Linked DNA regions of Homo sapiens. The protein of the gene in region 1 purifies or fractionates together with the protein of each later gene. This does not show direct contact. Each region holds a gene or a part of one and is shown in the gene's direction. Other genes may lie near its edges. The genes, in order: NCR3LG1, PODXL, XPO6, MMS22L, DAGLB, XPO5 and ATP7A.

Evidence for each region.
Region 2: the proteins of NCR3LG1 (region 1) and PODXL purify together in Homo sapiens (affinity purification with mass spectrometry; 2 studies listed by BioGRID and IntAct, with this or other methods). This does not show direct contact.
Region 3: the proteins of NCR3LG1 (region 1) and XPO6 purify together in Homo sapiens (affinity purification with mass spectrometry; 2 studies listed by BioGRID and IntAct, with this or other methods). This does not show direct contact.
Region 4: the proteins of NCR3LG1 (region 1) and MMS22L purify together in Homo sapiens (affinity purification with mass spectrometry; 2 studies listed by BioGRID and IntAct, with this or other methods). This does not show direct contact.
Region 5: the proteins of NCR3LG1 (region 1) and DAGLB purify together in Homo sapiens (affinity purification with mass spectrometry; 2 studies listed by BioGRID and IntAct, with this or other methods). This does not show direct contact.
Region 6: the proteins of NCR3LG1 (region 1) and XPO5 purify together in Homo sapiens (affinity purification with mass spectrometry; 2 studies listed by BioGRID and IntAct, with this or other methods). This does not show direct contact.
Region 7: the proteins of NCR3LG1 (region 1) and ATP7A purify together in Homo sapiens (affinity purification with mass spectrometry; 2 studies listed by BioGRID and IntAct, with this or other methods). This does not show direct contact.

The regions. Positions count from the first base shown.
Region 1 is NC_000011.10:17,372,300-17,375,799, forward strand, and holds part of NCR3LG1 (natural cytotoxicity triggering receptor 3 ligand 1 precursor), read left to right. Parts: coding exon 1-213; 3' UTR 214-3,500. UniProt on the Homo sapiens protein: Triggers NCR3-dependent natural killer cell activation.
Region 2 is NC_000007.14:131,550,129-131,553,628, reverse strand, and holds part of PODXL (podocalyxin isoform 1 precursor), read left to right. Parts: intron 1-3,500. UniProt on the Homo sapiens protein: Involved in the regulation of both adhesion and cell morphology and cancer progression. Functions as an anti-adhesive molecule that maintains an open filtration pathway between neighboring foot processes in the podocyte by charge repulsion.
Region 3 is NC_000016.10:28,201,966-28,205,465, reverse strand, and holds part of XPO6 (exportin-6), read left to right. Parts: intron 1-3,500. UniProt on the Homo sapiens protein: Mediates the nuclear export of actin and profilin-actin complexes in somatic cells.
Region 4 is NC_000006.12:97,273,217-97,276,716, reverse strand, and holds part of MMS22L (protein MMS22-like), read left to right. Parts: intron 1-3,500. UniProt on the Homo sapiens protein: Component of the MMS22L-TONSL complex, a complex that promotes homologous recombination-mediated repair of double-strand breaks (DSBs) at stalled or collapsed replication forks.
Region 5 is NC_000007.14:6,434,455-6,437,954, reverse strand, and holds part of DAGLB (diacylglycerol lipase-beta), read left to right. Parts: intron 1-1,421; coding exon 1,422-1,593; intron 1,594-2,934; coding exon 2,935-3,193; intron 3,194-3,500.
Region 6 is NC_000006.12:43,566,039-43,569,538, reverse strand, and holds part of XPO5 (exportin-5), read left to right. Parts: intron 1-801; coding exon 802-828; intron 829-2,184; coding exon 2,185-2,370; intron 2,371-3,500. UniProt on the Homo sapiens protein: Mediates the nuclear export of proteins bearing a double-stranded RNA binding domain (dsRBD) and double-stranded RNAs (cargos). XPO5 in the nucleus binds cooperatively to the RNA and to the GTPase Ran in its active GTP-bound form.
Region 7 is NC_000023.11:77,913,693-77,917,192, forward strand, and holds part of ATP7A (copper-transporting ATPase 1), read left to right. Parts: intron 1-3,500. UniProt on the Homo sapiens protein: ATP-driven copper (Cu(+)) ion pump that plays an important role in intracellular copper ion homeostasis.

The DNA.
Region 1 (3,500 bases):
ATTGACCCTGCTCTCCTAACAGTTACATCAGGCAAGTCCATAGATGATAATTCCACAAAGTCTGAGAAACAAACCCCTAGGGAACACTCGGATGCAGTTCCGGATGCCCCAATCCTTCCTGTCTCCCCTATCTGGGAACCTCCTCCAGCCACAACATCAACAACTCCAGTTCTATCCTCCCAACCCCCAACTTTACTGTTACCCCTACAGTAAATGCCTGATGGACCTGGTGCCACTAGGGTCCAAGTTCCCTTTTCATTACAGGACCTTGGGCAAATAAGAGGGGACCTGGGCAAGTTCTCTGATGACCTGATAGATATATAGAGGCTTTCCAAAACCTAACTCAGGTGTTTGACCTTACTTGGGGTGATGTTATGTTGCTCTTAAACTCTTAACTACTACAGAGAAACAGGTAGCCCTGCAGGCAGCAGAAAAATTCAGAGATGAACAACATGTCTTCTATAGCCACTCAATAAGGAAAGAAGGTGAGAAACAACCAGCATTCACATACCCAATAGGAAGCGAGGCAGTGCCCCTTGAACAACATAATTCGGACCCCAGTGGTACCTTAGATGAGTGGCAAAGAAAACATTTTCAAATGTGCTTATTAGAGGGCCTACAGAGGACCAGAGCCAAGCCTCTTAATTACCCCAAACTCTCCATGATAGATCAAAAACTAGATGAAAATCCCTCAGCCTTTTTGGAAAGGCTGAGAGAGGCTGTAGTGAAACACACTTCCTTGTCTCCTGTTAGGTATGTTTATACCTCACATAAATAATTCAATTGAGGGACAGCTAATTTTGAAAGACAAGTTTATTACTCAGACAGCCCCTGATATCAGAAGGAAGCTAGAGAAACAGGCCATGGGATTAGATAGCACCTTACAAAACCTCCTGAAGGTAGCCACCTCGGTCTTTTATAATAGGGACCAGGAGGAGGCCCAGGGGAAGGAGAGGAAACACAAGAAAAAGGCAGAGACTCTGGTGGCCACTTTGTATAAAACCCAGTATCCCCAAGGTACACCTGCTAGTTGCTACCAATGTGGCAAACTAGGGCACTTCAAAAGGGACTGCCCAGGCAGCAAGAAGAAGCCACCTCAACCCTGTCCAGTATACAATGGGGACCACTGGAAGGCAGACTGTCCTGGGAAGCATAGGTCACTGAGTCCAGAGCCAGTCTCACAAATGGTCCAGCAGGACTGATGGGTCCTGGGGCTCAACTCCCTGGCTCCAGTGGCTCAGACTGCTGTTACTACCCGGGAGCACCAGGTGATTCTGGAGTTCGAAGGGAGGAAGGTAGACTTCTTTCTGGACACTGGAGCCAGGCTTCTGTTTTCCTCTCCAATTCAGGCCTTCGTTCCTCCCATAGCACAACCATGATGGGCATCTCAGGAAAGACTTTAACTTGATATTTTTCTCAACCTATTAGTTGCAGTCAGAGGGACCTACTGTTTACACAGGCCTTTTTAGTCATGCCTGAAAGTCCCACTCCTTTATTAGATAGAGATATTCCAGCACGTATGGGGGCCACCATCCTTATGGCTCCAGGACAAACTCCGCCTCCCCTTAGTGGAAACCAGTATTAACCCAGAGGTTTGGGCAACTCAGGGAAGAAGTGGCCGGACTATAACCACTATACCAGTCTGGATCCACCTCAAGGATCCCACTTTTTTTCCTAACCAGAGACAATACCCTCTGAAGCCAGAAAGTAGAAAAGGGCTAGACGCCAGCATTGATAACCTAAAGGCACAAGGCCTCCTTAGGCCTTGCAGTAGCCCTTGAAACACCCCAATATTAGGGGTGCAAAAATCCAATGGGGAAGGGAGACTAGTTCAGGACCTCTGCCTTATTCATGAGGCTGTGATTACGATTCATCCAGTAGATCCCAGTCCCTATACTTTGCTAACTCAAATATCCAAGGGAACTAAATGGTTCACAGTTCTGGGCCTAAAGGATGCCTTTTTCTGTATACCTTTATACCCTGACTCCCAATACTTGTTTACCTTTGAAGACCCCTCCAATCAAACCACCCAGTTAACCTGGACTGTACTGCCTCAGGGATTTAGAGATAGCCCCCACCTATTTGGGCAAGTATTGTCAAGAGATCTCTTCGAATTCTTCCATTCTCAGGTTAAAGTTTTACAATATGTAGATGACATTCTCCTCTGTGCCCCAACTGAGGAAGTTTCTTGAGACGGCACTGAGGCTCTCCTTAATTTCCTAGCTGGAAAGGGATATAAGGCTTCAAAATCTAAGGCTCAGCTCTATCAGACTTTGGTAAAGTACCTAGGTCTGGTCTTGTCAGAAGGGAACAAGAGCACTAGGCGAGGAGAGGATTAATCCCATTTCCTCCCTTCCTCTCCCCAGAACCCTCAAGCAGCTGAGGGATGCTTGGGCATTACAGGTTTTTGTAGGTTATAGATACCCAGGTATGATAAAATAGGTTGCCCTTTATATCACCTTATAAAAGAAATTCAAGTGGCTAAAACTCACTTCCTGACCTGGGAACCTGAAGGTCAAAAGGCCATTAATCAGTTAAAACAAGCCTTGCTTAAAGCACCAGCCCCCAGTCTTTCTGTAGGGAAGTCCTTTAATCTTTATGTATCATAAAGGAAAGGAATGACCCTGGGAGTTTTAATTCAAGTTCAAGGCCCAGCTCAACAGCCAGTAGGTTACTTAAGTAGAGAGCTTGACTTGGAGGCTAAAGGATGGCCAGCTTGCCTCTGAGCAGTTACAGTAGTGGCCCTGCTAGTCCCAGAGGCCACCAAGTTAACCCTGGGGAATAACCTGTTTATGCCTCACATAAATAATGTGGCAGGCTTGCTGTCCTCTAAAGCGAGTCTCTGGCTAACAGACAGCTGCCTCCTCAAGTATCAGACTTTGCTGCTAGAGGAATCTGCAGTCCAGTTAAAAACCTGACCTTGCCTGATCCCAGACACTTTCCTCCCAGAGGAAACTGGAGAAACTGAACATAATTGTGAACAGACTGTAGTACAACCTATGCCGCTAGGGAGGATCTCAAAGAAATTCCCCTAGAAAATCCAGACTGGACCCACTTTATGGATGGGAGCTCTTTTGTAGGACAGGGAGTCTGAAAAGTGGGATATGCAGTAGTCACCCTAAATAACATTGAAAATGTGCCTCTCTCACCAGGCACACACACTCAATCAGTTGAGCTGATCCCTCTCACAAGAGCACTTGAACTAAGCAAAGGAAAGACAGCTAACATTTATACTGACTCCAAGTGTACCTTTCTAGTTCTCCTTGCCCATGCTGCCATCTGAAAGGAAAGGCACTTCCTCACCGCTAATGGGTCTTGCATTAAATACCATCAAGACATCAACAGGCTATTATCCTCAGTGTTCCTCCCATGAGAATTAGTGGTCAGACATTGCAGAGGGCATCAGAAGCGGGTAGATGAAATAGCGAAAGGAAACAGGCTAGCAGACCAAAGAGCTAAGTCAGCAGTAAGAAGGCCCCAAGGTCCCAAAACACTTGAGG
Region 2 (3,500 bases), on another chromosome or scaffold:
AGTGGACCTCCCTGAACCTCAGTTTCTTCATCTATAAAGTAATAACAGCCCTACCTTGTGGGTTGCTATGAAGATGAGCGAGTATATATATCATGGGCTTGGCTTTACGCCCAACTCAGGATCAACACTCAAAAAATAGCTATGATGATTAGTAAGCATATATATTGAGCACCTGGTGGGTTTAAGGGACCCCAGGCATTGGGATCCTGCCAATGTTTGTGGGTATCAGTGGATATATGATAATAAAAACTGAAGCCCCAGTGCCACTCTGTGGGAGAGGGAGGCATATGGAAAAGAGTATAAGATTTGGAAGGGGTGGTCTGGAGGTCTGGAGAAAGCTTCCTGAAGGAGGTGGGGTTTTCACATAGGGATTTTAAAATTAAAAGGGTCAGTGTTTCCTAATGTGGCTGAGGCTCTATGAATTGTAGTGTGTAGGGGAGATGCAGATTAGGGTCGGGGAGTCTGTGATGGTGGTTCTTGAGATGGAGTCATTGAGGCTTTGGGGAGATTAGCTCTCAGAACTGGAGAGAAAATTCCACGGTGGCAGGGTGTGGCTGCTCACGCCTGGAATCCCAGCAAATTTGAGAGGCCAAGGTGGGAGGATCACTTGAGCCTAGGAGTTCAAGACCAGCCTGGGCAACCTAGTAAGACTGTACTAAAAAGACAAAAAAATTAGCTGGGCATGGTAGTGGCACACGCCTGTAGTCCCAGCTACTCAGGAGACTGAGGTAGGAGAATTGCTTGAACGTGGGAGACAGAGGTTGCAGTGAGCCAAGATCACGCCACTGCTCTCCAGCCTGGGCAACAGAGGGAGACCCTGACTCAAGGAAAAAAACAAGGTGCCCAGGGCTGGGGTGGGGGAATGTGGGTGTTCCCAGCATGGTGCAGCTTGGGACAGGATCTGAGGCAGGAGCGAGCTGGACATGGCGGGGTTAGGAGCCCAGCCATTCAAGGGCAGACCCAAAAGCACCTGGTGTCAGTGTGGCCAGAGCTTTGGAGTGTGGTCGTCCAGAGAAGGGCTGAGGAGGGGAGCGTGGCCTGCCCAGGAGGGTCCTCAGGGTGTCCCCCAGGCCTAGAGAAGGTGGGGGAAGAGGCATGGAGGCTGTCCCCCATCTGGTTTTCCTCAGGAACCCATGTTTGAAAGGAGAGGAGGGTGCTGCCTGGGGTTTTAACACCACTGCCCTGTGGAAAGCTGAGAGGGGAAGGGGACTAGACTCCCTGTGGTTAGAATTCCCCCCCTTGCAGGGAGGGAGGGGAAGAGCCACTCCTAGCCACCCTCAGGCATCATCTCTGAGATGCCTTCCCTGGTTTCCTAGGGAGAACCAAAGTGTGTTCCATGATCTGTGTGTCTCCTCCACCATGCGGTGAGGCCCTCGAGGGGCCAACAACATACTTATCACCACCTCCAGGGCCCAGCCCAGCACCCAGCGCTGAGCGGTCGCTTGGGATACTCTGGACTGTAGAACTGAGGGGAACCGGCTTCAGCCCTGGCTTTAGGCTCCCTGGAAGGGGAGTTTGCATCCTGGGAAGGGATGTCTGGCCAGTGGGCTTGTTCTCCAGCAGCTAGAGCTGGTGGGAGCAACTGCTGAAGGTTAAGGCTTCTGTGGGGCTGGTGACCCCTGTGATGCTGGTGGCTGCTGTGGAGCTGGCTCAGCACTTAGCTCAGAGCCCTTCACTGTTTTTTTTTTTTTTGAGATGGAGTCTCGTTCTGTCACCCAGGCTGGACTGCAGTGGCGTGATCTCAGCTCACTACAAGCTCCACCTCCCGGGTTCACGCCATTCTCCTGCCTCAGCCTCCCGAATAGCTAGGACTACAGGCGCCCACCTCCACGCCCGGCTAATTTTCTGTATTTTTTAGTAGGGACGGGGATTCACCATGTTAGCCAGGAAGGTCTCGATCTCCTGACCTCATGATCCGCCCGCCTCAGCCTCCCAAAGTGCTGGGATCACAGGCATGAGCCACCGCACCCAGCTCAGAGCCCTTCACTCTTAAGGGAAGTGGGAGGAATCGTGTCTCCAGTTCACTGGACTTCTCAGGAGGGGACGTAGATGACCCCTATTCCAGGAAGTGCTGCTTCTTCACACCCTTTGAGGCAGAGGCCCTCTTCAGGGCTGCTGAATGCAAGCTTTGCTCTAGCTGAAATGGAAGTCATTCCTACATAATCAGAGAAAGAGAATGGCATTGCCCTGCCCATCCCTACCCACCAGCCTGAGCCTGCCTGGACACTTTCACTGGACCTCAGCCAGGAGCTCTTTACCCAGCTCTGGGCTCATTTCCTATTTGCACCCACTGGCCATGAAGCAGGGCAGGGAGCTCAGCTGGTGGGGTTTCCTGTCCCGGACCCAGGAACATGGGCTAAGTTGGATGGGCCTCTCTTTATCATGTATCCTGTCTGCTCTATGGGGCTGTTAAGAAATCAAGTGATGTAGCAGATCTGGGATGGTGACTCCTACCCTGCACAGGCCAAATGACGGGGGCATTCTCTATAAGAAAAGCCTTCAAGAAAATTGACACAGAGGATCCCTTAAAGGAGCCTCTTCATATTTGCAGTAACATTTGCCATATGACTGCTTCGAGTCGGCAGCCTGCAGGCTGTGCAATGTGGAATTCGGTTGGCAAAGGGTACTTTCCACACCACTTCTAAATGAGCCAGAAAATCATAGGACACAGAATTCTAGAGCTGGGGAGCCTTCTGGAAATCATCTACTACAACCTGCTTGTTTCAAATGGGGGATTGCAGGCCAGGGAGGTGGGTTCATTCGCCCAAGTTCCCAGTGACTCTCAATAAATAGCTTTCCAGGAGGTGGGTGTGCACACGTGTGTGTGCGTGTGTGTGTGTGTGCGTGCATGTATGTGTGTGCATGTGCGCATACGTGTCAGCTGTAAATACCAGAATAGAACTCAGCCCTTTCAGTGCTGATTCCCTCCTGGGAATTGGAAAAACTCACCAAATCCCCTTTATATATTTTTTTATTTTACTTCTTTTTGTTCTGAGATGGAATCTCGCTGTGTTGCCAAGGGTGGAGTGCAGGTGGCTTGCTGCAACCTCTGCCTCCCAGATTCAAGACATCCTCCTGCCTCAGCCTCCTGAGTAGCTGGGACTACAGGCATGCGCCACCACACCCAGCTAATTTCTGTAGAAATAGGGTCTCACCATGTTGGCCAGGCTGGTCTTGAACGCCTAACCTTGAGTGATCTGCCCACCTCAGCCTCCCAGTGCTAGGATTACAGGCATGAGCCATCATGCCTGGCGAAAAACCTCTTTAAAAAGGACTTTAGGATGGTGACAAACCTATACTGTGCCCACATCTCTTTCCCTACCCCTCTACCATAAGGGTAAATTGAGGCTTGGGGCCATGTTGCTATTTAAGAGTTAGACTCCTAAGGGTGCCTGGAATACTGTGCCATAGCACTGGCCACCATGCATTGTGCCTAAATATGTCGGTGTTTGCCACTGGCCCACTGGCTGAGGACCCCCTGTCATTTCCACAGCCTCTAG
Region 3 (3,500 bases), on another chromosome or scaffold:
GTCAGGGAAGGCTTCCCAGGAAGGTATATTTGAGTCTTGAAGGATGAGGAAGAGTTTGACACTGGGACAAAGAAAGGGCCTTCCAAGTGAAAGTTTCTTGCAGACAGTTACAAAGGTCACATATATAGCAACAAAGATAATAGAAAATGATAGGTGTGAAGTGAGAGTGAAGGAAATAAACATTTGTTGGGTGCGTAGGACTTTCTAGGGCTTTATATGCATACCTATGTACACATATACATGTAGTACACAAACATGGTATTTTTTTTATCTGAAACCTTTACTCCTACTTTCCTGGCCAGTTATTGCCCTATTTCTTTTTTCCCCTTTGCAACAAAACCCCAGGAAGGAGTGGCCTGTACTTGGTCTCTAATTCCTCACTTTCCCTTTGCTCATTAATTTTAGACATAGGATCTCGCTCTGTCGCCCAGGCTGGAGTGCAGTGGAGTGACCATAGTTCACAGCAGCCTTGAACTCCTGGGCTCAAGGGATCCCCCTGCCTAGGCCTCCCAAAATGCTGGGATTATAGATGTGAGTCCCCACGCCTGGCATTATTCTCTCTTAATCTCACTTATCAAGGTGATAAGTGTTGCTTATCCAGTGTTGCTAAATCCAGTGGTTAGCTCTCAGTCCCTATCTTACTGGATCTGTCAGTAGTGTCAGACAAGTGGAGTACCCCTTCTGCAGTTCAGCCTTTCGTCACTTGGCCGCTGGGACACTAAGGTGTGTTCTTGGTTTTCCTCCTGTCGCACAGGTTGTTTCTTCCTCATCTCATAGCCGGAACACTCTAGGCCTCGAACTTAGTGCCTTCATCCAGGACACCTATAACCCAACATCTCTCTCCTCAGCTCCAGTTCTCGAGTCTCCAGCTGTCTGCTTGACATCCAAGCTGGTTTGTGAGACGGGTCACATCTCCCCTCTAGCTCACCTCCTTTAGCTCTCACTGGCTGTGCTGCAGCTCCCTCGGTCTTCTTACTGCTCTTCAGACCTTCTGGGCATGTTCCTGCTCCAGGCCTTTGGCCTGGCTCCCTGCCTCTGCTTGGACCGTGCTCTCCCTGAGAATCTGCTTGACTAAACCTTTAAGCCTCGAGTCACTTTTCCAGTGGGGCCTTCCCTCACCACCCTGTTTAAAATGGTAATGCCACTTCAGCACTTCCAGTCCCTGACATCCTGCTTTACTTCTCTTTTTGTACAATTTTTTAACATTTTATATACTCAATATTATTAATGAGGTTGGTCTTTTGTTGTCTCCTGCTAAAATGTTAGCTCCATAAAGCTAGGGAATCTCTCTTTTGTTCATGTATCCCAAGAGTCTAGAGCAATTCTTGGCATAGTGGGCAATTAAATTGTGGTAGGGATGTTGTTGAGGTCTTGGGTGTTCAAAGGGAGCTTTAGGGAAGGAGTAAACTAGGCTCCCTAGCAGTTTCAGAAGTTTGGAAGTTTCAGAAGAGAAGGATGTGAAGAAGTAGTTGGAGAGAAGGCTATCAAGGTAGTTTGTGGCTAGATGATGGAGGGTCTCCAGTACTACCCTAGGGAGTTTGGCTTTCTCTTGTTGGATGGTTTTTCCTTAAAGGAAACTTAATCTGCTGTGTATAGGTTAGATGTGGGAAACCAGATGTTACACCATGCCTGTGTGGATGTGACAAGGGCCTGCCTGTTCTTGCATGTGTAATTAGTGGTTGAGAGGAAGACCTGGTAAGGGAGTTGTCACTTAAAACTGATTCCAGAGTTAAGAGATGAGGAAGAAGGAAAAGCACAAGCTGATTTTGGAAGCCTGTAACCTGGCGATTGAGAGTAGTAGAAAGTTTTAATCAGTTGGTGATTTGGATTTGGTAGGAATGGAAGCGATAACATGTAAACTGATAGGAAGAGATGACAGGAGATGGGCCATGTGCTGATGAAATATGGGATGTGGCTATCTCTGTAGGTAGGTGAGCAGTTGTGGCGCTGTTGACATGAAGGTAGTTGGCCCTGGGCACGAGAAGGATGTTGAAGATCTTAAGTAGTTGCATTGTCAAATGTATCTGTCTAAGCCAAGGAAGATGTGATAGCACAGGCTGTGTTGAAAGGGTAGGAATTCCTGAAAGTGTGGTTGCCACTCTACCTCTACTTTTTCAACCTCCCACCTCTCCTTTCCCCCTGTCATTCATTCTACAACCCATTGCTGACTGACTTTTTTTTTTTTTTTTTGAGATGGGGTCTTACTCCGTCGCCCAGGCTGGTGTGCAGTGGAGCAATCATGTCTTACTGCAGCCTCTATCTCCTGGGGCTCACGCGATCCTCCCACCTCAGCCTCCTGAGTAGCTGGAACTATACGTATGCATCACCATGCCTGGGTAATTTTGTATTCTTTGTAGATACGAGGTTTCACCATGTTGCCCCTGCTGGCCTTGAGCTGCTGGGCTCAAGTGATCCTCCGGCCTCAGCCTCCCAAAGTGCTAGGATTACAGGCGTAAGCCACCACGCCCAGCCAGCAGACTTTTTGTCTTTACCACTTTTCAAGATTATGTGTAACATCTGTGTGCTGAGTTCAGTTTAATGCGTATTTTCAATCCTTAGGTCATTTGACCTCTCAGTGTGGCCTTTGGCAGCCACTGATCTCCTTTTCTTTTCTTGAAACACTTTTCTTCTTGGCTCCCGTGGCATCCATGGTATTAGTCTCTTGGTTTAGCCTCCCATGGCTTCAGCTATGACCCGTGTACCAATGAAAACTAAACCCTCACCAGCTGTAGATATCCAGTGTTCTGACAACATCAAATTAAATGTGTGTTAAACCAAATCCATCATCTTCCTCTCAGGTTAGTGCCTCCTCTGTCTTGCCCTGGTTCTGTTAATGACCTCATTTTCTAGCTAGTCAAATGATGAACCTGAGTCATCTTTAACTTCCTCTTCTATAGCGCCCCCCTGCTTCCAGACCTGTTGATGCTGCTGCTAACGTATCTGTGTCCTGACCCTGACCTTTCCCTCCATTCCCTCTGCTTTGATCAAGCTGTCATTGTCTCTTGCTTTGGTTGTTGCTGTCATGACCGGTCCTCTCTTCCAGGTTCTGCGTCCCTCTGTCCATCTTCCGTACTGCTGAGCTGCCTCATAGAGCTCAGATGTGATCATGCCACGTGAACCCCAGTCATTCAGAGCAGAGGGTTCCCACTGTTGTCTGAGACCAAGTTTTCATCATGGTAGAGTAACATGGGCCCTGAATTTTAAGTTTCTTACTTACTTTGAGGTCCCTCAGTAAGGATGAAGATGGTTCATTAAATACTTAAAGTGATTTATTTGGAGTATCTATGAAAGACTTCCCAAAGTACACCTTGTTTTCCAGCCACAGCAAACCATTTGTCATTCCCAGAACACTCAGTGCACTTTAATACTTGTCTGCCTTTGCTGATGCTGTTCCCTCTGCTCTAGCGCCCTTTTCTTTCTTGCAAATGAAACTTATGTGACATCTCAAGGTTACCATAAACATTACCTCTCTGAGGCTTTCCAGCTGCTAGTTTATCATA
Region 4 (3,500 bases), on another chromosome or scaffold:
GAAAAGTTTTTCGGACAGGAAGAATTCCAGGCAGAAAAAAATAAAACTGTATAAACAAAGACGTGATGTGTGTAAAAACATAAAAGTTTAGAGAGCATGGATTAAATATTAATTACATATGGTTGGATCAGAATGTGTGTGAGTGATGAATTTGGAAGGGATAAAAGCAGAGTTGGCTTTGTAAACCATGACAGAGAGTATGATTTTTATTTTGGAACTCCTGTGGAGCCACTAAAAGATTATAGTGGAAAGAACCAAAATACCTTTACCTTTACGTAGAATAACTTAAGTAAATTGGGTTCATGGAAGGCATTTATTATGATAGATTATTATTATTACACTTATTAACCTGAAACCACTGCAGTGGACTATTTGTTAAGATGGTTGTTTGTTACACTGACATTTTGGCTGTTTTTGTTGCTTAAAAAAGCTTTTAATGACAGATTTTGGACAAGTTAGTGGTGTTAAATATTATCCATACATGAACATGTCCCTGCCATGTAGCTGTGTTCATTAACTTGTGTAGCTACCCTTGGACCTCAGCTGTGCCAAGAAGTCCCTATGTAGTTACTTACTGCCAGATGAGTATAGTTCTTGTTCTAGCCATTATGCTTCCAGGGTTAATTTCCAGTTGAGGCAGAATAACATACTTAATGACATGTTTTGCTGACAGCTGTTTTTTTTCTCTCTTTCCGTCTCTTTGTCTCTGTCTCAAGACAGGGTCTCACTCCATCGCCCAGGCTGGAGTGCAGTGGTGCGATCATGACTCACTTCAGCCTTGACCTCCTGGGCTCAAGCAGATCCTCCCATCTCAGCTTCCCAAGTAGCTGAGACTACAGGCTCACGCCATCATGCCTGACTAAAATTAATTTTTTGTAGAGATAAGGTCTCACTATGTTGCCAAGACTGGTCTCAAACTTCTGGGCTCAAGTGATCCTCCCGCCTTGGCCTCCTAAAGTGCTAGCATTATAGGTATCACCCACCACACTCAGCCAAGAGCTATTCTTAAATATAATTGTTGGTGTTACCCTGTCTCAGCTATTGTGTGTGTGTTTTTTTTCTCTAGACATTCCTTATGGATTTTTTAAAATGTCTTCTGTTTCTGACTTCATGCTTGTTTTCATCCATCTTGAATATATGGAGTATACATTATAACCACTGTTGTTGCTGCTATTAATAATTCTTCTTTTTGAGAGGGCATCTTGCTCTGTCACCAGGCTGGAGTGCAGTGGCGCCATCTCGGCTTACTGCAACCTCTGACTCCCTGGTTCAAGCAATTTTCCTGCCTCAGCCTCCCGAGTAGCTGGGATTACAGGCACACGCCACCATGCCTAGCTAATTTTTGTATTTTTAGTAGAGACAGGGTTTCATCATGTTGGCCAGGATGATCTTGATCTCCTGACCTCGTGATTCGCCTGCCTCAGCCTCCCAAAGTGCTGGGATTACAGGCGTGAGCCACCATGCCCGGCCAATAATTCTTTTATCACTGTCATTTCTGAAACTATTTGTATTGATTAGTTTTTCTCCTGATTCTGTGATATATTTTTCTGCTTCTTTGAATATATAGTAATGTTTTATTGTTAGATGAACATTGTGGGTTTCACATTGTTGCTTTCTGGATTTTTATTCCTTAAACTAGATGTTGAATTTTGTTATGGGTCGCTATTGTGTAGTTGTAATCCACTGGTTCTTCTTGAGGCTTGTTTTAAATTTTGGTAGGACTTTTAAAAAGCAGCCTTTAATGTTAACTTAGCCTAGTAAATTAGTCTAGTAAGGCTTTGAGAATTCTTTCTCGTGCGTAGTCTATTATGAGATTTTTTTTCATGCTTGCTGGTGAGAACTTGAACTATTCCCTGGCTTGTGTACTCTTTATAGGGAATTGTTTTCTGGTGTTTTTCCCTGGCGTTGGGTAATATTTTTCATGCTTGAACAGATCGATACTTAAATCTCAGAGGGACACTTCTGTACCCTTCCAGAACTCTATTTTGTATAGCTTCTTTCTTCTTGGGTACTTTTGCCCTGCAAATTTGGACTTCCCTAAACTTGGATCCCATATCTCCTCATCTCAAAGAGTGAGTTGGGCTGTATTTGGGTTCTCTTCCTCATATTGAAGCCTGGAAACTGTCTCTAGGTGGGGAGCTGGTACAGTTGTAGGGCTCAGTTTCTCTCTGGGAGAGCAATCTTATATTGTCTTGTGTCCAGAGCCTGAAAACTTGCTTGACGTAATTTTTATGGTTTTCAGCTTTACAGTGGGAGATGGAGCAATCTGATTATTTTACTCCGTCTTGCCTGGATGCAGATGTTCACTGCAGTTATTTTTAAGAGAGTACTGCCTTAATGGGCCGAGAATTGTGAAAATTGGGATGATATGACTTTTTATGGGTGAAATAAAGCCATAAAAATGCAGTTTAATATGGAGGTATTTACACAACTGCTTCACACTTATGCTTCTATTCTGCCACAGTAGTGGCATGATTGTTCATTTGAATTAAACTTTAGTTTCATGTTTAGTATGGCTGTAAATTTGTAGCCTATAATTCTCATCATGTTTTCTTTGCTTTTGTTTACTAGATTGTCTCTTACTCATTCTCTATATAATGATTATTAGTGTTTTGCCCATAGTAACTACCTAGATAATTATTGCTGATATAAATGCTGAAGTAAGTGAGGGAAAGCTGACATGGAGTGAGGTTGGGAGAAAGGCAGCAACTATTAAAAGGTCGTTCAGAGCTTTATAAATTATTATTAGGAGTTTTGATTTTATTCTAAATATAATAGGTATTCTTTCAAGAGTTTTGACTTGGGAACAAGATAAATTGATATACATTTTAAGCAGATTTTTTACTTAGTGTATAGGGGGACAAAAGAGAGCATGGAAAGACCTGTGAAGAGTGCTATTGTGGTGGTTTAAGTGTTTATAGGGAAAATGGATAGTTTCAATGTATATTTGGTTATTAACTTAATAGGACTCTGAAGGATTAGATACGAGGTTAAAGGAAATGCAAGAATCAAGAACCATATAGGCTACTGGTGGCACCATTTTATGAAAGGCTGAAAACAAGGACAGCATCAACAGGTTTTGAAAGAAATCAAAGGAGGTATTATTTGCACTGTCTGAGCAATCCAAGTATAGGTGTTAGGCAGTTTAACACGGAAGGTCTGGAGTGCAAAGGAGAGATGGGGTTGTAGATAACCCTTTTAGAGTCATTATCATTTATTAATAAAGGAACTGATGAGATCATACATATGGGAAGAGATATACAGAGAGTAGAGGATTCAGGACTGAGTCTTGAAGAGACCATATTAATAATAGAATTGAGGAGGAGGAGCCAATAAAAGAGGTAGGACAAAGGATACATGAGGAAGAAAGAAGACTCATTATCTGGCACCATGAAGCCAGGTGTAGCTAGTGCTACTGTGGGAGCAAGTTACTTGAGGGTAGGCACTGTCTATTAGATTGGGCAATGTGGGTGTGATTGGTGACTTTAATAAGAGCATTT
Region 5 (3,500 bases), on another chromosome or scaffold:
AAAGCTATTTCCTGGTAGGGTGCTGTGGCTCATGCCTGTAATCCCAGCACTTTGCGAGGCAAAGGCGGGCAGATCACTTGAGGTCAGGAGTTCAAGACCAGCCTGGCCAACATGGTGAAACCCAGTCTCTACTAAAAATACAAAAATTAGCCAGGTGTAATGCCTCTAATCCCAGCTACTAGGGAGGCTGAGGCAGGAGAATCACTTGAACCTGGGAGGCGGAGGTTGTGGTAAGCTGAGATCACACTACTGCACTCCAGCCTGGGCGACAGAGTGAGACTCCATCTAAAAAAACAAAAACAAAAATTAACCAAAAAACGCCCACAAAAAAACAACTGTCTATGGGACTATGAGGCCTATTTCAGCGTGGTGGTGTGCACCTGTAGTCCTAGCTACCAGAGAGGCTGAGGTGGGTGGATCACTTGAGCCTGAGAGGTGGAGGCTGCAGTGAGTCATGATTGTGCCACCACACTCCAGCCTGGGCAAGAGAGTGAGACCTTGTCTCCAAAAAGAATGGTAGCTATTACGCTCTCTGAGCTTCAGTTTGCTTGCTCATACGTAAAATGAGATAATGACTAACCCAGTCATTGTGGGGATTACAGAACTACGCACATAAAGTGTTTTAGGTTGGTGTCTAGAACAATGTAGGTCTCAAAGGGACGTGGAGCTTGTTTTCATGGCTGTTAGAACTTGGGTGACCATATATCCCTGTTTGCCTGGGACAGTTCTGTTTTGTGCCTGTTGTCTCAGCATAATTATTACTATTATTATTATTATTATTATTATTATTATTATTATTTTGAGACGGAGTCTTGCTCTGTCACCCAGACTAGAGTGCAGTGGCGCAATCTCAGCTCACTGCAACCTCCGCCTCCTGGGTTCAAGCGATTCTCCTGTCTCAGCCTCCCTCGCAAGTAGCTAGGATTACAGACGCCCGCCACCACGCCTCGCTAATTTTTTAATTTTTAGTAGAGATGAGGTTTCACCATGTTGGCCAGGCTGGTCTCGAACTCCTGACCTCAGGTGATCTACCTGCCTTGGCCTCCTCCCAAAGTGCTGGGAGTACAGGTGTGAGTCACCGTGCCCGGCCCCAGCATAATTATTAATAGTCCCCTTTTTTCCTCTCAGAAGTATACCAGTTTGGGCCATGATTATATTGTCACCCCAGTGAGAACCCAGAAGTGTTTTTAATCCCTGCTAAATCTTAAAAAAGAGCCCAGGACTTCTTGTCACGTTTCCCATCCTCATTTTCTCACTTGCTGTCTGACTTAGGTGCTGATTACCAATTATAAGTAGAAAAAGTCAGGAGGCGGGTGTGCACAGTACAAATGTATGCTCTGCAAAAGCTGTATTTTTGCAAAAAGGAAGCTCTTCATCTCTGAGGAAGCAACTGAGCAGTCGGAACGTTTTTTGTATTTCAGGAACGATTTGTAACCCTGGACCGCGGAAGTCTATGTCTAAGCTGCTTTACATCCGCCTGGCGCTGTTTTTTCCAGAGATGGTCTGGGCCTCTCTGGGGGCTGCCTGGGTGGCAGATGGTGTTCAGTGCGACAGGACAGTTGTAAACGGCATCATCGCAACCGTCGTGGTCAGGTGACATCTCCCTTCTTCTCTTTGAGTTTCAGTGGATTTGAGGCATAGGTGAACAAACCCTTCTAACATGACAGAGAGTCCAGCGTCCCTCGGACTTCCTCAAATAGTTAGAAATTGGAGTTAGTTTCTGCGTAACTCATGAAAATTTAGAGACACTGTTTGTCCATGAAATACAACTCGTCTTTCGTTATGCACGTATTGATGTAGATTTCTTTCCTTACTGGTTCTTTATTTTCTACATTCCCTTCTGTCTCTCTCTCTTTTTTTTTTTTCTTTTTTTCTTAAAGTCTTTTATTCCTAACCCTTCTCTTATAAGAATTCGGAAGAAAACCAAAGACCAAAACCAGAGCAAAAACTAAAACTAAAGGTATGAAAAGAGATACGGTGTCCAGAAGTGGGACAGGGAATAATATTCTAGAACAATAAGGTTTTCGTGTTTTCTAGGCTAAAAATCTTAGAGATGATCCAGTCCCGCCCCCTTAACACCCTCTGTTCTAAATAAGGAATCAGACCTGGGCTGTTGCTGCGTTTCTCGAGTCACACCGCCAGGGGGCAGCAGAGCCCCTTCGGGAGGGGCATTTCCCGGTTGCGTGTGCTCCTCAATCCGGCGTCTTGCAGTGTGAAATATTTAAACATATAGATGAGAGGCCTATCAGAGTACTCTGTGATACCTTCATGAGAAGAGCCCTGAGGCACCGAAGGGGAAGGGCGTATGTCATGGTCCCAGGGCCATATGGAGAAGAAGTGCCCGCTGCATCCGGGCGCAGGCTGCAACTCTGCCCAGCGGACACCTCCCTGTTCCTTCTGTGGCCTTTACTGTTAGGGCAGGGCCTGGGTTAACCACTGATTCATAAGGAACTTTTTTTTTTTTTTCTTTGAGACGGAGTCTCCCTCTGTCGCCCGGCTGGAGTGCAGTGGCGCCTCCTCGGCTCACTGCAATCTCCGACTCTCTGGTTCAAGCGATTCTCCTGCCTCAGCCTCCTCAGAAGCTGGGACTACAGGCACGTGCCACCACACCCAGCTAATTTTTGTGTTTTTAGTAGAGACGGGGTTTCACTATGTTGGCCAGGCTGGTCTCGATCTCCTGACCTCGTGATCTGCCGGCCTCGGCCTCCCAAAGTGCTGGGATTACAGGTGTGAGCCACCATGCCCAGCCTCATAAGGAACTTTCTAGAAGAAAGTTGCTTGCCTCAGGCAGGTTCCAGGAGAGCTGCATCTTCCTCGGTAACAGAACCCTCCGTGGTAGAGACTCAGAAACTGAACCTGGAGGAGGGACCCCGGACATCTGCGTCTGGGCTGGGGCCCGCAGTCACCGAGCCTTTTCCTCTCTCTGTCTTGCAGTTGGATCATCATCGCTGCCACAGTGGTTTCCATTATCATTGTCTTTGACCCTCTTGGGGGGAAAATGGCTCCATATTCCTCTGCCGGCCCCAGCCACCTGGATAGTCATGATTCAAGCCAGTTACTTAATGGCCTCAAGACAGCAGCTACAAGCGTGTGGGAAACCAGAATCAAGCTCTTGTGCTGTTGCATTGGGAAAGACGACCATACTCGGGTTGCTTTTTCGAGTACGGCAGAGCTTTTCTCAACCTACTTTTCAGTAAGCCGAGGGGATCTGGTTTGGTCTGTTTCTTCTGTTTCAGTAAATGCTTCTGATGGAGCCGGTCCCTCTGTTCCCATAAAACCGCGTTTGAGAACCTGGTGTCTTTGGGTGTGTGGGGGGTGGCCGGAGACCCTCTGTCTGTGATGAGCCCTCCAGGGAGCAGTTAACTGCAAGAGCCACACCTTCTCAGACCCTGTGTCCCAATAGGACATGTCTTCGTATTGACACCCACTCACTACCCTGTCAAAATGCTGGATTAGCCTGTAAGGAACCACATAACGGACGCTGTACCCTTTGAGAATAA
Region 6 (3,500 bases), on another chromosome or scaffold:
TGGTCTTGAACTCCTGACCTCAAATAATCCGCCTGCCTTGGTCTTCCAAAGTGCTGGGATGGTAGGCGTGAGCCACCGCGCCTGGCCTAATTTTGTATGCTTGTAAGTTAACATTATGTGCCTTTGTATGGATTTGAAATATAAGGATAAAAATCAACCATATTTGTATATTCACTGAATAGCCACTATTCTGATGTATTTAACATCATATATATATGTATTTTTTTTTGTTGTTTTTTTTTTTTTGAGACGGAGTTTCACTTTTGTTGCCCAGGCTGGAGTGCAGTAGTGCAATCTTGGTTCACTGCAACCTCTGCCTCCCGGGTTCGAGTGATTCTTCTGCCTCAGCTTCCCAAGTAGCTGGGATTACAGGCATGCGCCAGCACACCGGCTAATTTTTGTAATTTTAGTAGAGATGGGGTTTCACCATGTTGGCCAGACTGGTCTCAAACTCCTGACCTCAGGTGATCCACCTGCCTTGGCCTCCCAGACTGCTGGGATTACAGGCGTGAGCCACCACGCCTGGCCAACATCCAGTATTTTTGAGTACATGGTTTTCATATACTTAGGCTATACATACATGTTCATGAATTGTATTCATTTAATTATGCTTCTGACTTTACTTGTTCTCCCTAGGGGAATATCAGTTATGCGTGCTTAGTAAAGTTGTGTTATTTTCCAAGATGAAAAATTGCATATATTTAAGAATCATTATTCAAGGGCATTGATTTGTGGGGGGTAGAAAGTTATTATGTGGCCTTTTGCTCATTAAAAACACTGGATCTTTATACTTCCTTTCAGAAGACAGATACTTCTCAGGAGTCAAAGGTAAGAGCTCTTTATAAAGTTTGAAGGAGACCTTTGAACCTTTCAGGTGAGGGGATACGTGCCCCTAGTGGATGGTGACCTCAGCCTTGCTTGTGTTGTATTGTTTTGGAGACAGGTCTTACTGTTGCCCAGGCTGGAGTGCAGTTGTGTGGTCTCAGCTCACTGCAGCCATGACCTCCCCAGCTCAAGTGATCCTCTCACCTCAACTTCATGAGTAGCTGGGAATATAGGTGCGCACCACCATGCCCAGCTAATACTTTCTATAGAAACAGGGTCTCAGTGTGTTGCCTAGGCCGGTGTCAAACCCCTGGCTTCAAGTGATCCTCCAGCCTCGACCTCCTGAAGTGACTGTGGGCCACTGCATCTGTCGTTTGTTTTTTTTGTTTGTTTTTGTTTTTGTTTTTGAGACGGAGTCTCGCTCACTTGCCCAGGCTGGAGTGCAGTGGCGCGATCTCGGCTCACTGCAAGCTCTGCCTCCTGGGTTCACGCCATTCTCCTGCCTGGCCTCCCGAGTAGCTGGGACTACAGGTGCCCGCCACCACACCCAGCTAATTTTTTGTATTTTTAGTAGAGACGGGGTTTCACCATGTTAGCCAGGATAGTCTCAATCTCCTGACCTCATCATCCGCCCTCCTCAGCTTCCCAAAGTGCTGGGATTACAGGTGTGAGCCACCATGCCCAGCCTGTCCTTTGTTCTGTTTTTGATCACTGAGCTATGGTTGAAGGGAAGTAAAAAAAAAAAACAAAAACAGACTTACTTTTTTTTTTTTTTTTTGACACAGGGTCTTACTTTGTCACCCAGGCTAGAGTACAGTGACGCAAACGTGGCTCACTGCAGCTTCAGCCTCCAGGCTTCAAGTGAGCCTTACCTCAACCTCATGAGTAGCTGGGACTATAGATGCACACCATCATGCCTGGCTAATTTTTGTATTTTTTTGGTTAGGGTATTTTTTTTATTTTATTTTATTTTTTGTTTTTTTGGTAGACACTAGTTTTGCCATGTTGCCCAGGCTGTTGTTTTAACTCCTGGGCTCAGTTGATTCACCCACCTTGGCCTCCCAAAGTGCTGGTATTGCAGGTGTGTGCCACTGCACCCAGCCTTGGGAAGTAAAATGATAAGATTTGGGGTTTTGTGAAAAAGATAAAATGGCCACACATGCCAGTATGGTCTTGTTGTTGGATGTTGAGAATGTCATTGTTTGAGAAGTGATTGTGTTCCCTACCTGTGACTGTTACATGAGTATATTCTTAAAAAATAATTTTCTTAGAATTAGAAAATGGGAGTTCAGTTATAACCACTGATTCCTTACCTGTTACCGAGGACTTCATGGTCCAAAGTTACTTCTTTTCTGGTAGGCGCAAGCAAACTGTCGAGTAGGAGTTGCAGCACTGAATACTCTAGCAGGCTATATTGACTGGGTGTCTATGAGTCACATCACTGCTGAAAACTGTAAACTCCTGGAGATACTGTGTTTGCTGTTGAATGAACAGGAACTTCAGTTGGGAGCCGCTGAGTGTCTTCTCATTGCAGTCAGCAGAAAAGTAAGTTACCACTTCAAACTGACTTATCCTCAGTCTCTGAAGTAGGCTGTGTATGTGTTTAATTGCATGTTGTGGCAGAAAGTCATTTAAAGGTTTGGGTTTTTTTCCTTGGGGCCAACTTACTGCCTGCTTCCAACCCCCTTGGACAGGAGTTTGCCAATATTCAAGGGATCCTTTGGCAGAATGTGGAGATTTATCAGGCTGCATGGTTCTTGAAATAGCCATGATACTTGGCAATTTACAGTTAACAGATAAAAGTAAATGTTTAAGTTTAAAGCTCACTTAATGAATGTCAAGGAATCTTGGATGGTGGCTACAGTAGGTTTATATCTGTCTTTTTTTTTTTTTTTTTTTTTTAATTGAAACAGTCTTGCTCTGTCACCCAGGCTGGAGTGCAGTGGCGTGATGTTGGCTCACTGCAACGTCCGCCTTCCGGGTTCAAGCGATTCTCCTGCCTCAGCTTCCCGAGTAGCTAGGACTATAGGCACACGCCACCATGCCCGACTGATTTTTGTATTTTTTAGTAGAGATGAGGTTTTGCCATGTTAGCCAGGCTCTTCTCGAACTCCTGAGCTCAAGTGATCTGCCCTCCTCAGCCTCCTAAAGTGCTGGGATTACAGGCGTGAGCCACTGCGCCAAGCCTATGTCTGTCTTGGCTAACCAATGGAACTGTGACTCTTTTCTCCATAGGAATATTATCTACAAATGTAATTTACTTTGCTGTCATATCAGCATTATTGCCCAACACATTTATTTATTTATTTATTTATTTTTTGAGATGGAGTCTCGTTCTGTTGTCTAGGCTGGAGTGCAGTGGCGCAATCTCAGCTCAGTGCAACCTCTGCCTCCCGGGTTCAAGCAATTCTCCTGCCTCAGCCTCCTGAGTATCTGGGATTACAGGCGTGTGCCACCACACCCAGCTAATTTTTGTATTTTTTAGTAGAGATGGGGTTTCACTATGTTGGCCAGGCTGGTCTCGAACTTTTGACCTCAAGTGATCCACCTGCTTTGACCTCCCAAAGTGCTAGGATTACAGGTGTGAGCCACGGCACCTGGCCTAATTTTTGTATTTTTAGTAGAGACAGGGTTTCACCATGTTGACCAGGCTGGTCTCGAACTCCTGATCTCAG
Region 7 (3,500 bases), on another chromosome or scaffold:
TCTTTTTGTGCCCAAATGTATGAGATATTGGTAGACTACATCAGTTTTCACAGATACCTCTTTCCTTGAAGGAAATGAGGGTAAAATACCCCATTTTGAGTCAGTTATGTGTACTTTGTACCATATTTTCTGTTCACATTTAAAATTATACAGCTATGTCTCAAGGATGAAAAAAGAGTTTTACTTATTTTTACTATTAATCTCTAGTGTAGAAGTCCAGTTTTTCAGACCTATAATCAGGAGTGCATTTTTAACAATTTACCAGTTGAAATAAATGGGTTATTTCACATTGTAGGGATATTGTTTTAGACTGGCCATTAACCTTATTTTATTTTATTTTTATTTTAAAAGATGTTATTGTTATTATTTATCTATGTATTTATTTCTAGAGGCAGGGCCTCGCTCTGTGGCCCAGGCTAGGGTGCCATGGCACAATCATAGCTCACTGCAGCCTTAATCTCCTGGGCTCAAATGATCCTCTGGCCTCTCAAGTAGCTGGAACCACAGGCGCATGCCACCATGCCTAGCTACTTATTTATTAATTAATTATTATTTTTTAAATAATATTATTTTTAAGAGATGGGGTCTTGCTCTGTCACCCAGGCTGGAGTGCAGTGGCGCCATCATAACTCACTGCAGTCTCGATCTCCCAGGCTCAAGCGATCCTCCTACCTCAGCCTCCTGAGTAGCTGGGACTATAGGTGTGTGCCACCACTCCCAGCTAATTTTTAAACTTTTTGTAGAGACAGCATCGTGCTGTGCAGTGGTGCTATCTCGGCTCACTGCAACCTCCGCCTCCTGGGTTCTAGTGATTCTCTTGCTTCAGTCTCCCAAGTAGCGGGGATTACAGGTGCGCGCCACCACACTTGGTTAGTTTTTGTATTTTTGGTAGAGAAGGGGTTTTGCCATGTTGGTCAGGCTGGTATCGAACTCCTGACTGACCTCAAGTGATCCACCCTCCTCAGCCTCCCAAAGTGCTGGGATTACAGGCATGAGCCACTGTGCCAGGCCTTAAAACACCTAGTGTTAAAAATGGTGTCTTAATTGTATTCTCAGATTCTCCTAGAAAGAAAAGATATACTAAATGTATATTTAGATATACTAAAACACCTAATGTTTATTTTTGTTTATTTATTTTTGAGATGGAGTCTGGCTCTGTCACCTAGGCTGGAGTGAAATGGTCTATGTTTGTTTTTTCATCTTGACAGTAATATCTTTGAACATTTTCTGGAGTATTAGATATTATTCTCTTGATGCTTCAAGGTATCTTAACTTCACCATTGTATTGCGATATATTGTTTTGGAGAGACAGTATAATATAGGATTAAGAGTGGAGGCTAGGTGGGGCACAGTTGCTCACGCCTGTAATCCCAGCACTTTGGGAGGCCGTGGCAGGCGGATTGCTTGAGCCCAGGCGTTCGAGACCAGCCTGGGCAACATAGGGAAACCCTGTCTCTACAAAAAATACAAAAATTAGCTGAGTGTGTTGGCACGTGCCTGTAGTCCCAGCTACTCAGGAGGCTGAGGTGGAAGGATCGCTTGAGCCTGGAAGGTTGAGGCTGCAGTGAGCTGAGATCACACCACTGCACTCCACCCTGGATGAGAGAGTGACAGAGTGAGACCCTGTCTTGTCCGGAAAAAAAAAAAAAGCCTGTCTTGTCTGGCTCAGTCCAGGTGCTAGACTGTCTAGGTGGGATCCCAGCCCCTCTGCTTACTACTTGTATGACCCTGCGCAGATTTCATACTCCTCTGTGCCTCAGTTCCTTCAAATTTCTAAAATGGGGACAATAACAGTACCTGTCTCACAGGATTGTTAATGATCTAATACATGTACGGTGTCTGGCAGATAGTAAACATACAATAAAATGTAGTTACCTTTAATATTTTAATATATTATTTACTGTAAAAGTAATTTTAACATCCTATATAATAAAATTATAAATTACAGTTTTGCTGTACTATAAATTTAGTAGACTACAGGATCAATATACTAATCAATCAATACTTGCAAGCAATATTTAAATTCTTTAAAAAAATTTTTTTTGGAGACAGGGTCTTGCTCCGTAGCCCAGGCTGGAGTTGCAATGGCACGATCTCGGCTCACTGCAACCTCTGCCTCCAGGGTTCAAGCGATTCTCATGCCTCAGCCCCCCGAGTAGATGGGGTTACAGGCGTGTGCCACCACACCCGGCTAATTTATTTATTTTTAGTAGAGATGGGGTTTCGCCATGTTGGCCAGCCTGGTCTCAAACTCCTGGCCTCAGGTGATCTGTCCGCTTCAGCCTCCCAAAGTGCTGGGATTACAGGTTTGAGCTACCGCTCCCGGCCCTGCCACCACGCCCGGCACAATACTTAATTTCTAACTTACACCATAGAAAATTGGCCGGTGCGGTGGCTCACGCCTGTAATCTCAGCACTTTGGGAGGCTGAGGTGGGTAGATTGCTTGAATTCAGGAGTTCCAGACCAGCCTGGGCAACAAGGTGAAACCCCATCTCTACAAAAATTACAAAAAATAGCCAGGTGTGGTGGCATGCGCCTATAGTCCCAGCTACTGGGGAGGCTAAAGTGGGGGAATTGCTTGAGCCTGGGAGGTTGAGGCTGCAATGAGCTGAGATCATGCCACTGCAGTCCAGCCTGGGTGACAGAGTGAGACCCTGTCTCAAAAAAAAAAAAAAAAAGAAAAAAAAAGAGAAAGAAAATGGAAAACTCAGATTGAGAGGGTCCCCCAGTAGCCTATAGTACACCTACATATGCTAACATGGCATCTTAAAGCTCATTATTACAGCTGGCAAATCAAATCACTGTGATGTGCTCATCCTATTTCCCTATCAAGAAAACTCATAACAATCTGCTTCTGTAATTAGTGAGCCACAGACTCTAGGCCATCGAGATTTTCCACATTCCCTAATTGTCAAATGCTGAACCATACTTGTACTGAATAAGTTGTGATACAGTGTAAGCAAGGGAAAAGGCCTTATGTATGTCTAACCTACTCTGCAAATAGCTGCATTCTTACAAAGTTGTGTGTAAATTGAATTTTTACAAAGCATGTCAGCACTTTGATTAGTACATTTTTATTGTGTGCTTATTGCATATTCAGTGTTTCCTGTGAGCTATACAAAGAAGCATAAGGCATATGTTCCAATGTCTAGCAAGAGAAAGAAGTTTAATACCAAGCAGAGAGAAATTAGGTACTACTAAACTATGAAACTGATTCCAGGGTATTCGGAATTTAAAAAGAAAGTGGCTAGGAGTATTTGACATGATTTTTCATGAAGGAGGTGGGACTTCAGTTCATTTACTTACTCAACAGTGATTTATTGAGTAGCCACCATGTTCACTGGTGGTATGATAGTGAACAGAGCAGATATGGTCCTGTTTCTGTGGAGTTTACAGACTAGTGAAGTAATAGAACTTAAATATGTGCAAGAAAACATTCTAGGTGAGGGGACCAGTTCTAAACAAAGTCATAGAAATAAATGATAAGAGCATGGACTAT